Linked DNA regions of Homo sapiens. The protein of the gene in region 2 interacts with the protein of the main gene of each other region in a pairwise test. Each region holds a gene or a part of one and is shown on either strand. Other genes may lie near its edges. The genes, in order: POLR3GL, M1AP and CRX.

What was found.
Region 1: the proteins of M1AP (region 2) and POLR3GL interact in binary tests that used the Homo sapiens proteins (3 or more experiments, as listed by UniProt).
Region 3: the proteins of M1AP (region 2) and CRX interact in binary tests that used the Homo sapiens proteins (3 or more experiments, as listed by UniProt).

The regions. Positions count from the first base shown.
Region 1 is NC_000001.11:145,967,546-145,971,295, reverse strand, and holds part of POLR3GL (DNA-directed RNA polymerase III subunit RPC7-like), read right to left. Parts: intron 1-3,750. UniProt on the Homo sapiens protein: DNA-dependent RNA polymerase catalyzes the transcription of DNA into RNA using the four ribonucleoside triphosphates as substrates. Specific peripheric component of RNA polymerase III which synthesizes small RNAs, such as 5S rRNA and tRNAs.
Region 2 is NC_000002.12:74,646,677-74,650,426, reverse strand, and holds the start of M1AP (meiosis 1 arrest protein), read left to right. Parts: upstream 1-2,096; 5' UTR 2,097-2,162; exon of another isoform or gene 2,163-3,090; coding exon of another isoform or gene 3,091-3,152; intron 3,153-3,750. UniProt on the Homo sapiens protein: Required for meiosis I progression during spermatogenesis.
Region 3 is NC_000019.10:47,838,787-47,842,536, forward strand, and holds part of CRX (cone-rod homeobox protein), read left to right. Parts: intron 1-533; coding exon 534-1,181; 3' UTR 1,182-3,750. UniProt on the Homo sapiens protein: Transcription factor that binds and transactivates the sequence 5'-TAATC[CA]-3' which is found upstream of several photoreceptor-specific genes, including the opsin genes.

The DNA.
Region 1 (3,750 bases), on a different chromosome or scaffold from region 2:
AACCAAAGAAATGTCAATCAAGTATCAACCTTAGTTAATAATAATGTATCAGTATTCATTCATTAATTGTAACAAATATACGAATCAATTTTTTTTTTTTTTTTTTTTTTGAGATGGAGTTTCGCTCTTGTTGCCCGGCTGGAGTGCAATGGCGCGATCTCGGCTCACTGCAACTTCCGCCTCCCAGGTTCAAGCGATTCTCCTGCCTCAGCCTGCTGAGTACCTGGGATTACAGGCATGCGCCACCACGCCTGGCTAATTTTATACTTTTTTTAGTACAGAGGGGGTTTCTCCATGTTGGTCAGGCTGGTCTCCACCTCCCGACCAGGTGATCCATCCGCCTCGGCCTCCCAAAGTGCTAGATTACAGGCATGAGCCACTGCGCCCGGCATTTTTTTTTTTTTTTTTTTTTTTTTTTTTGAGATGGAGTTTCGCTCTTGTTGCCCGGCTGGAGTGCAATGGCGCGATCTCGGCTCACTGCAACCTCCGCCTCCCGGGTTCAAGCGATTCTCCTGCCTCAGCCTCCCGAGTAGTTGGGATTACAGGAGCCCGCCACCGTGCCCGGCTAATTTGTTTTTGTATTTTTAGTAGAGACGGGGTTTCACCATCTTGGCCAGGTTGGTCTCGAACTCCTGACCTCGTGATCCACCCGCCTCAGCCTCCCAAAGTGCTGGGATTACAGGCGTGAGTCACCGCGGCCGGCCAATCTACAATGTTAATAGGGGAAACTGTGCACTGGGACAAATGGGAACTCTTGGCACTATCTGCTAAATTTTTCCGTAAGTCTTAAATTGTTCTAAAATATATAATCTATTAATTAAAACAAAAACAAAAAACAAAAAAAACTCGAGGCTGGGCGTGGTGGTTCACACCTGTAATCCCAGCACTCTGGGAGGCTGGGGTGGGATGACTACTTAAGTCCAGGAGTTTGAGACCAGCCGGGGCAACATAGTGAGATTCCATCTCTACAAAAAATAAAAAAATTAGCCAGGCATGGTGGCACATGCCAGTAGTCCCAGCTACGTGGGAGACTGAGGTGGAAGGATCGCTTCAGCCCGGGAGATAAGAGGATTCAGTGAGCCATGATCATGTCACTGCACTCACCCTGGGTGACAGAGACCTTGTCTCAAAACAAAAAGCTAAAACAAAAATCAAGTAGCAATTCAAAATTCCCAAGAGATTAGTTGGTGAAAAAAATATTTAAAAATAATATGTAGAAGGTAATCTTCTGTCAGAAATACATACACACATATGAATTAAAAATCTGTTATAGAAGGATATGTACCAAAAATTAACAACGGTTAATTTGAAGGATGAGGGTTTTTTGAATTTTTTCTGGTGGGGAGAGTTGTGTATCTTTTTTTTTTTTTTTTTGAGACAGAGTCTTGCTCTGTCACCCAGGCTGGAGTGGTGCAGTGGTGCAATCTCGGCTCACCGCAGCCTCCACCTTACGGGTTCAAGCAATTCTCCTGCCTCAGCCTCCTGAGTGGCTGGGATTACAGGCACCCACCACCATGCTTAGCTAATTTTTGTATTTTTAGTAGAGAGGGGGTTTTCCCATGTTGGCCAGGCTGGTCTCAAACTCCTGACCTCGTGATCTGCCTGCCTCAGCCTCCCAAAGTGCTGGGATTACAGGCATGAGCCACCATGCCCAGCCAGGTTATGTATGCTTTGTTTTTTTCTATACTGAATAGAATACTATAACAACATTAAAATATTAATTTAAAAATTTTTGGCTGGGCATGGTGGCTCATGCCTGTAATCCCAACACTTTGGGAGGCCGAGGCAGGTGGATCACAAGGTCAAGGGATCGAGAACATCCTGGTCAACATGGCAAAACCCCGTCTCTACTAAAATACAAAAATTAGCTGGGCATGGTGGTGTGCGCCTGTAGTCCCAGCTACTCAGGAAGCTGAGGCAGGAGAATCGCTTGAACCCGGGAGGTGGAGGTTGCAGTGAGCCGAGATGGCGCCACTGCACTCCAGACTGGCAAAAGAGCGAGACTGTGTCTCAAAAAAATTTTTTTTTAATGGGCCAGTTGTGGTGGTTCATGGAGGTAATTTCAGCACTTTGGGAGGCCAGGGCAGAAGGATCACTTGGGCCCAGGCAGTCGAGGCTGCAGTGAGCTATGATCACACCACTGTGCACCAGTCTGGGCAACAGAGTGAGACCGTGTCTCAATAAATAGATAAATAAAATTTAAATGTCGTAACAGAATACTAAATGAGATTAATAATCTGTAGCTAGGAGAGGGTAGAAAAATGTATATCTGAGGAATCTGGGAAGTTTCAAGCCCAACTGCCATAAAAAAAATTGAGGAAACAATGGCTGTTGGTTAAGATATCAAATTGCAATCTGTTTGAAAAGAGCATATTAAGGGAGAGAAGATGTCTCATGGAGACTAGAGAAATAATAAGAATTTGTTGGCTGGGCGTGGTGGCTCATGCTTGTAATCCCAGCACTTTAGGAGGCTGAGGTGGGCGGATCACGAGGTCAGGAGTTCAAGACCAGCCTGACCAACAAAGTGAAACCCCGTCTCTACTAAAAATACAAAAAATTAGCCAGGCGTGGTGGTGCACGCCTGTAATCCCAGCTACTCAGGAGGCCGAGGCAGGAGAATAACTTGAAATCAGGAGGCAGAGGTTGCAGTGAGCCAAGATTGTGCCACTGCACTCCAGCCTGGGCAACAGAGCGAGACTCTGTCTCAAAAAAAAAAAAAAAAGAATTTGTCACCGTGTCTTCAGCCCCTTTTAAGCGAGAGAACATTCTAACCAGCTGGTTAAGTATCTTTCCACTTGACAGATATAGTTCTGGCAGTGGAGATAGGAGCTGCTGTGACTGCAAAGCAATGAAGAGTCAATAAATGGCCATGAGTTTGAGGTTAGACAAATTCCACACCATTTCTACACATTAAATGAGTGATCCTCTAAGAATGCAGGGGAAAAAGAAGACAAAATTTTATTTAATACAGGTTGGGAAATAAACCATCCATCTGCCCCATTCATCTTAGGAATCTATAGGGAGTCTCTGCTATTAAAGATTGTGATGGAGTTAAAATTCTTGAGGATACTTAAGGTCTCCCATAATCTAGTCACAATCTGCTCCTCCTTAACATCAACCTTTCCAGAGAGTTTACCCCTGTACTCTGTTTTACTCCAAACAACACTCATATACACTATGCTCATTCCCAATTATTCATACATATATATTGTGGTGGAAGTTACTGAGAGGCAGGTTTCAACTAAACATACAGAAAAACACTAACAATTACATCAAATTTAAGGAAGGCAGTACATGTAGAGGTTAAGAATATGGTTTTGAATCCCAGTTCAATTTCCTAGCTACAAAACTCTGGTAATTTATTTATTGTCTCTAAACCTGTTTCCTCATCTGTAAAATGGGAATAAAAATAACAATAATAGAATCATTTCACTCAACAAATATTTACTGAGTGCTTACTAGGTGTGCCAGGCACTGTTCTAGATTCTATGGATATAGCAGTGTGCAAAACAGACAAAAACATGCTGCACCCACGGGGTTTAAATGGAGCTTTCATTCCAGTGGAGGCATCAGCAAACAAACAATACTTCAAGCCATGAGACTAGGTGAGACCCCTAAAGGAGTGGATGTGGACAGAGAAAATAAGAAATCCAGGCACTGAGGCCTGGGGCACGCTGATGTGTAGAATTTGCTATACATGTAATAAATAAAGCAAGAAATTAACACCCTTAAAATCTTGGAAATCCAAAT
Region 2 (3,750 bases):
TTTTTTTTTTGAGACAGAGTTTTTGCTCTTGTTGCCCAGGCTGGAATGCAGTGGTGCAATCTTGGCTCACCGCAACCTCTGCCTCCCGGGTTCAAGTGTTTCTCCTGCCTCAGCCTTCCGAGTAGCTGGGATTACAGGCATGCACCACCATGCCCGGCTAATTTTGGATTTTTAGTAGAGATGGGGTTTCTCCATGTTGGTCAGGCTGGTCTCGAACTCCTGACCTCAGGTGATCCACCCGCCTCGGCCTCCCAAAGTGCTGGGATTACAGGCGTGAACCACGGAGCCCAGTCGTGGCAGTAGATTTCTAAGGCAGCAGCTGATGCCCTTGGTCAGTTACACTCCTTGTAGTTTAAAGTCTGCAAGGTGCTTTCTCATGACCATTATAGTTTATCACCCTCAGAAAACAATTCTTATGTCATAGTCCCCATTTCTGGTACAGTTCTTTGCATATTTTTAATAAATGCTATAGAGGGTACGGAAAGAAATTAATAGTAGGTAGGAGCAATGGGTGGTATGGTTTGGAGTGAGGCTAGTGCTCAAGTTTGAATGCGTCCCCCAAAGTTCATTTGCTGGAAACTTAGTACCCAATGGAATAGTGTTCAGAGGTGGGGCCTAACAAGAGGTGATTAGGCCATAAGGGCTCTGCCCCCATAAATGAATTAATGTCATTATCTTGGAAATGAGTTAGTTATTGAGAGAGTGGGTTTGTTGTAAAAGTGAGTTCAGCTCCCTATTGCTGTCTTGCTCTTTTGTACCCCTTGCCCTTCTGCCTTCTGCCATGGGATGACACAGAAAAAATGCCCTCACTAGATGTGGGATTCTCAACCTTGGAATTCCTACCCTCCAGAATTTAAGAATACATTTCCTTTATTTACAAGTTAGTTGTTCTGTGGTATTCTGGTATAGCAACACAAAGGGGAGTAAGACAGGTAATGCTGGGGTTGAGCCTAGTAAGGTAGGTGGGGTCAGTTATAATGGACCCTCTAACCGAAAAGGAAACATAAGCCATTTTTAAGACAAAGAATGATATGATCAAAATATTTTTACAAGGACAATTCTAACATCAGTGGAAACGATAATCTGGAGATTAGAGACAGAAAGGCTAATTTGGACTATATGGGGGGAAAGAGCTGTTGAGAAGCTACCCTTTAAACTGAAACACAGGAACTCTATTGAATATCAGATTATAGTGTTTAAAAAAGGACATAGGTTAAATAGTTCTGTTCTTACCTGAGGAACAGTTGATAGGAGCAAAATGGTTTAGTGGGACTAGAATACAAGCAGGCAACTCTTTTCCTGTTGAAACATCTAACCTATCCTGTGCCACTCATTGAAATATTGCCCCACCCCACCTCCAACCTGCATCTAGACAATGAACTGAGAAAATAACAATAATAATAATAAAGAAAACAAGGAAAACTGCTTGTACATTTCTAGCTTGGAACTAGCATTATCTTTCCCTCTCCTGTGGACTAATTCAGAGAATTCCTTTTTAACCAGAGTTGAAGACCCAGACCAACCAACTGTTAAGGACCAGGACGCTCCTACCCCATCTGGAGTTCGTCAAAGGGACTATGGGAATCAACCTCAAGTAAGCGAGAATGAGTATGAAGAGAGCGACAGACCCTCTTGGAATACAGGAGTTTGAAAAGACTTAAAAGAACTTTGTGAAGGCAGCTATAACTTCCATGAGGGCAGTGACCATTGTCTGTACATCCACTGTACTCCAATCCTAGCACAATGCGTGGCACATAACGTGCCCACCACAGATGTTTAGTGAACAAAATAGCGACTGGCTGAAGGAAATGATGTGGAAGGGAAAAGTTAAAACCAAGAAAACGGTCGGTGGGGGAGCTACTGGCATGTTTCATGGGAAGGGGTAGAAAAAGAAAAATGTCAGGTTTAGCACAGCATTTCCAACAAATAGACAAAATTCTACCTAAGGGACAAAGAAGGACTGTTCTCAGGGTATCTAGGGACTTGGAGACCGTTTTCCTGAAGCGCCACCTGAAGCGCACCCTGAGGCAGCCAGGCCCCGCCTTGCCCGCAGTGAGCCTCCCGCCCAGCCGCGCCGGCCTGAGGGGGGCGCCTCCGAACGCGCGGGCGCACGCTGAGAGCCGGGAGGACCAGGTGAGGGGGCCTCCGTCTTCCGAAGACAGGTACGGTTCTCCACGCCTCGGGGAGGGAGGGCAGCCCGAGAGCAGCCGGCACCACTTCGCAGGCTGGGCTGGGCGTGGGCCGAGCTCGGGCCAGTCCTCAGGCAGGTGTTGGTTGCGCTGGCCGTGGCGGGTGCCGGCGCAAGACTGACGCCGAGAGAGGCTCCGAAATCGCTGTCGGAGTCATCCCTCCGCATACTGTTCTGGGCGGCCAGGCCTGCGCGGAGTCTGGGCCCGGAGCTTCCTCCGCGGGGCCCCCAGGCCCGAGGGCCGGGCTGCTGATCCGCCAGGCACGGTAGGCGCCATGCCGAGGGACCACGGAGGCTTCAGGGAGCCACGAGAATTTTTTTTCTTCTGGTTTTGCTTTGTTTTTGAGACGGAGTTTCACCCTTGTTGCCCAAGCTGGAGTGCAATGGCGTGATCTCGGCTCACTGCAACCTCCGCCTCCCGGGTTCAAGTGATTCTCCGCCTCAGCTTCTCGAGTAAGCTGGAATTACAGGCTCCCGCCACCACGCCTGGCTAATTTTTTTATATTTTTAGTAGAGACATGGTTTCCCTATGTTGGCCAGGCTGCTCTCGAACTCCTGACCTCGTGATCCGCCCGCCTCGGCCTCCTAAAGTGCTGCGATTACAGGCGTGAGCCACCGTGCCCGGCCACGAGAATGTTTTCATTTCGTTTAAAGTGAACCCATGAAGTCAAAGAAAGTGTTTTGATTTTTTTCTCACATCAGGAGGGGGAAATGAGATTTTTAGGGCCTACAAAATCCATTAACTTCTTTTAATCTTTTTTTAATGGAGGAAGGGGTCCACGAAGACGAAAGTGCCTTAGGGCCCACGAAATCTTTAATAGGGCCCTGCCAGAGGGAGAACCATTGAATCGTTTATCACGCGACAAAGTGAATGAGGGCTTGTAAAGGGGCCCTAACCTAGAATGCTCAGCACGGAACAGAACATCCGCAGAGGCAGACACAGCGAGAAGCCGATCTGTGAGAGGTGGATCTCCCGGGGTGCGGGCAGGGGAGGGCCTAGTGTGAGGATGGAGAGTTGGGCAGAAGGCACAAGCAGAACTTTAGGGCCAGGGTAAAGATATTGGATTCTGTTTCCAGTGGTGTAATTGGAAGTCCTTGGAGGGTTTTTAGTTTGGGCATAACTTGGTGGTTTGGAGTGGTTCAAGGCCCAGTTCCAGTTTTAACCAGTTTGCAGGGAGAATTCATTAAGCGAGTGTTCTTGGCAAAAGTGGAGAGTATAGGGTCAGAATAAGGTCAGAGCCTGTTTAGTACTATGCCCAGACACATCAGATGCATGAATTGATGATGTTTGAGGATGTAAGGAAGAGAGCTGCCTCTTACCTCATTTAAAATACAGTCTTCCAATTGCACATTAGTGTGGGATTGAAAAATGACTGCAAGCTGAAACCATTCAAAGAGATCTTAAACACCAATGGGAAAAATTACAGTTGTTCTATAACCTTGAAAAATTGTCAAAACACTAAAACTTTCTTACTAACTGTATAGGGAAATGTAAAACAGTAAAACTATTTCATACACTAACTTAAAACATTAGAAACATTGAGAGCTAAAGTGTTTTATTT
Region 3 (3,750 bases), on a different chromosome or scaffold from region 2:
GCATGATGTATGTGTGTATGGTGTATGTATGTATAATTGTATGTGTGCATGTTTGTATTAGATGGATGGATGAAAATGTGTATGATGTACGTATGATCATATAGATGGGTAAATGTATGCATGATATATGTGCGTATGGTGTATATATGTATAACTGTACGTGTGCATGTTTGTATTAGATGGGTGGATGAATATGTGTATGATGTATGTATGATCATATCGATGGGTAAATGCAGGCATGATGTATGTGCGTATGGTGTATGCATGTATAATTGTACGTGTGCATGTTTGCATTAGACGGATGGGATGAATGCACATGGGTATGATGTATGCATGTGTTCATGCACACATGCAGGTATGATTGGATGGATAGATGGATGGATGGGTGAATAGACGCCCCACAGCTGGATGCAAAGTAGACAGATGTGAACCCAGCACCTCTCACCAATAAGTGTCCTCATCCCCGGGCACCCTGCGGCTCTCCTGGGCCTCTTCCCCACTTACCCACCCCCATCTCCGCTCTTATCCCCCAGGTTTGGTTCAAGAACCGGAGGGCTAAATGCAGGCAGCAGCGACAGCAGCAGAAACAGCAGCAGCAGCCCCCAGGGGGCCAGGCCAAGGCCCGGCCTGCCAAGAGGAAGGCGGGCACGTCCCCAAGACCCTCCACAGATGTGTGTCCAGACCCTCTGGGCATCTCAGATTCCTACAGTCCCCCTCTGCCCGGCCCCTCAGGCTCCCCAACCACGGCAGTGGCCACTGTGTCCATCTGGAGCCCAGCCTCAGAGTCCCCTTTGCCTGAGGCGCAGCGGGCTGGGCTGGTGGCCTCAGGGCCGTCTCTGACCTCCGCCCCCTATGCCATGACCTACGCCCCGGCCTCCGCTTTCTGCTCTTCCCCCTCCGCCTATGGGTCTCCGAGCTCCTATTTCAGCGGCCTAGACCCCTACCTTTCTCCCATGGTGCCCCAGCTAGGGGGCCCGGCTCTTAGCCCCCTCTCTGGCCCCTCCGTGGGACCTTCCCTGGCCCAGTCCCCCACCTCCCTATCAGGCCAGAGCTATGGCGCCTACAGCCCCGTGGATAGCTTGGAATTCAAGGACCCCACGGGCACCTGGAAATTCACCTACAATCCCATGGACCCTCTGGACTACAAGGATCAGAGTGCCTGGAAGTTTCAGATCTTGTAGAGGACGCAGTCTCCATCTCTCTCCATCGGGCCTCGGGACCCTTTCTCTTCTGAATCTGCTTCCCTGCAGTTTAGATCCCGGGATGGCATTCCTGAGAAAGCAACCCGAACCAGCTGTCCTTCTGACAGCTCGGTGTTCAGCTTACAGAGACCACCCCTTTCCTCCACAGGGAGAGGCTCCTCCCTCTCCTGGGACAGCTCACAGGTCCTAGTGATTCTCTCAACCCTAACACCGTCTGGCACGATTGTGACCGCTGAAGTACACCACGAGCTCCAGGCTTCAGAAAGTGGTGCTGAGAACTTGCTCCAAGAAGAAGTCAAACCAAACTTGCAGTTGATTTGGGGTCATGTTTAGGTCAGAATCACCGTGCCCTTGAACAAGCAGGTAGGGGGGCTTGATAACTTAACTTTCCACGTGGACAGAATTTTTTTTTTTGTTTTGTTTTTGTTTTGCAGACACAGTCTAGCTCTGTCGCCCAGGCTGGAGTGCAGTGGCACGATCTCAGCTCACTGCAAGCTCTACCTCCCGGGTTCACGCCATTCTCCTGCCTCAGCCTCCCGAGTAGCTGGGACTACAGATGCCCACCACCAGGCCCGGCTAATTTTTTTTGTATTTTTAGTAGAGACGGGGTTTCACCGTGTTAGCCAGGATGGTCTCGATCTCCTGACCTCGTGATCCGCCCGCCTCGGCCTCCCAAAGTGCTAGGATTACAGGCGTGAGCCACCGCGCCCGGCCCTTTTTTTTTTTTTTTTTTTTAATTGAGACGGAGTCTCACTCTTTTGCTTAGGCTGGAGTGCAGTGGTGTGATCTCAGCTCACTGACTGCAACCTCCACCTCCCGGGTTGAAGCGTTGCTCCTGCCTCAATCTCCCAATTAGCTGGGATTACAGGTGTGCTCCATCATGCCCGGCTAATTTTTCTATTATTAGTAGAGACAGGGTTTTACCATGTTGGCCAGGCTGGTCTGGAACCCCTGACCTCAAGTGATCCGCCTGCCTCGGCCTCCCAAAGTGCTGGGATTACAGGCATGAGCCATTGTGCCTGGCCCTACACGTGGACACTTCTTTAGCATATGGTTAGGGACCTTTCTAGAAATTCCAAAGACAGACTTTAAGAAGCCCCGTCGGGAAACCTTAGGCCAATGATGTGGTTACATTAAAAATAAATTATCTGGGAATTTCACAGACTTCACAAATGTCAGGCTTACATGGTAGGTTTAGGGGACCGTTTGAGAGACAAAGATCTACATTCATATATGTAGCTATACATATATGTACTTTTTCTTCTTAGTTTCTTTTTAAAGACATTTTATCACTCATTCGCTCATTAGCACATTGGGAATGTGTGTATTTGGTAGGGAAATGAAAGGCACCTTGCCTGTTCCATCTCTACTCCTTTTTTCTTTTGTTTTAGGATTTTCTAAAGGTGAGACACTGGTGGAACTGGGGTAGCTGCTTGGGACGTACCACCTATAGTTGTGGCTATTTCACAGAGAAGCAGCAGCTAGACAGACTCCCATCTGTAAATAAACAAGAGATAGGAAGAGGGGGAAATAGATTTGGAGGAGGCAGCCCTACATTTCAAACATACATTCCCTTTTTTAGATTTTTTTTTTTTTTTTTTTGGTTTTCAGTTTTGATGGTGGGATTGGAAAATAGAGCTTGGCTTGAGGACATTTTCCTGGGGTGGCACCATTATTTCTTGAAATAGAATCTTACTTATGGTGACACTGGCAAGCACTTGTGAGAACCTGAAGACGGATTGAGGTCATTTGATGCTCAGAAGTTGGGTGCTGGGTCCCTGCCTTCTCAGTCCGAGTTCTCCTTTCATTTTTGGGTGGGGAGGCGGGTTCCAAGAGCCCTTCATTGGTGGAGTTCACAAGGCAAGGTGTAAAAAAAAAAGTAGGGCAGGAAGACAGTGGTGTGCTGGCAGAGGTCTAACAATGGGCTCTCCAAGGAAGAGGAAAAGGTTGGTTGTGGAGTGTTTGTCAGTTTCCGTGGTGTAAATACTCCCACCACGGCTGACTTCAAGCTAGCAACCGGAGGTCACTGAACTAAGAGTTGGGAAGAGATAGGGCACAATATATGCTTACGAGTTGGTACACACCGTCAGCAGCAGCCAGGGTCAGGAGAAAGGCGAGATGTGAAGAGAGGCCGGGAGGTATCAGATGACGTTTCCAGCACTAGACCAGAAGAGGTGCACACAGCCTAGACCCCCTGAGGGGTACACCCTGATCTCTAGAGCCCACAAAGAGGTTTTTATTCAACATAAAACGTGTTCATCTCTCATAGGCCTGAGTCATGCTGGGTTCTGGGACATTAAGCCCAGGAGTGGGCCGGGTGCGGTGGCTCACGCCTGTAATCCCAGCACTTTGGGAGGCCGAGGCGGGTGGATCACCTGAGGTCAGGAGTTCGAGACCAGCCTGGCCAACATGGTGAAACCCTGTCTCTACTAATAATACAAAAATTAGCCGGGCATGGTGGCACGCGCCTGTAATCCCAGCTACTCGGGAGGCTGAGGCAGGAGAATTGCTGGAACCCGGGAGGCGGAGGTTGAAGAGAGCAGAGATT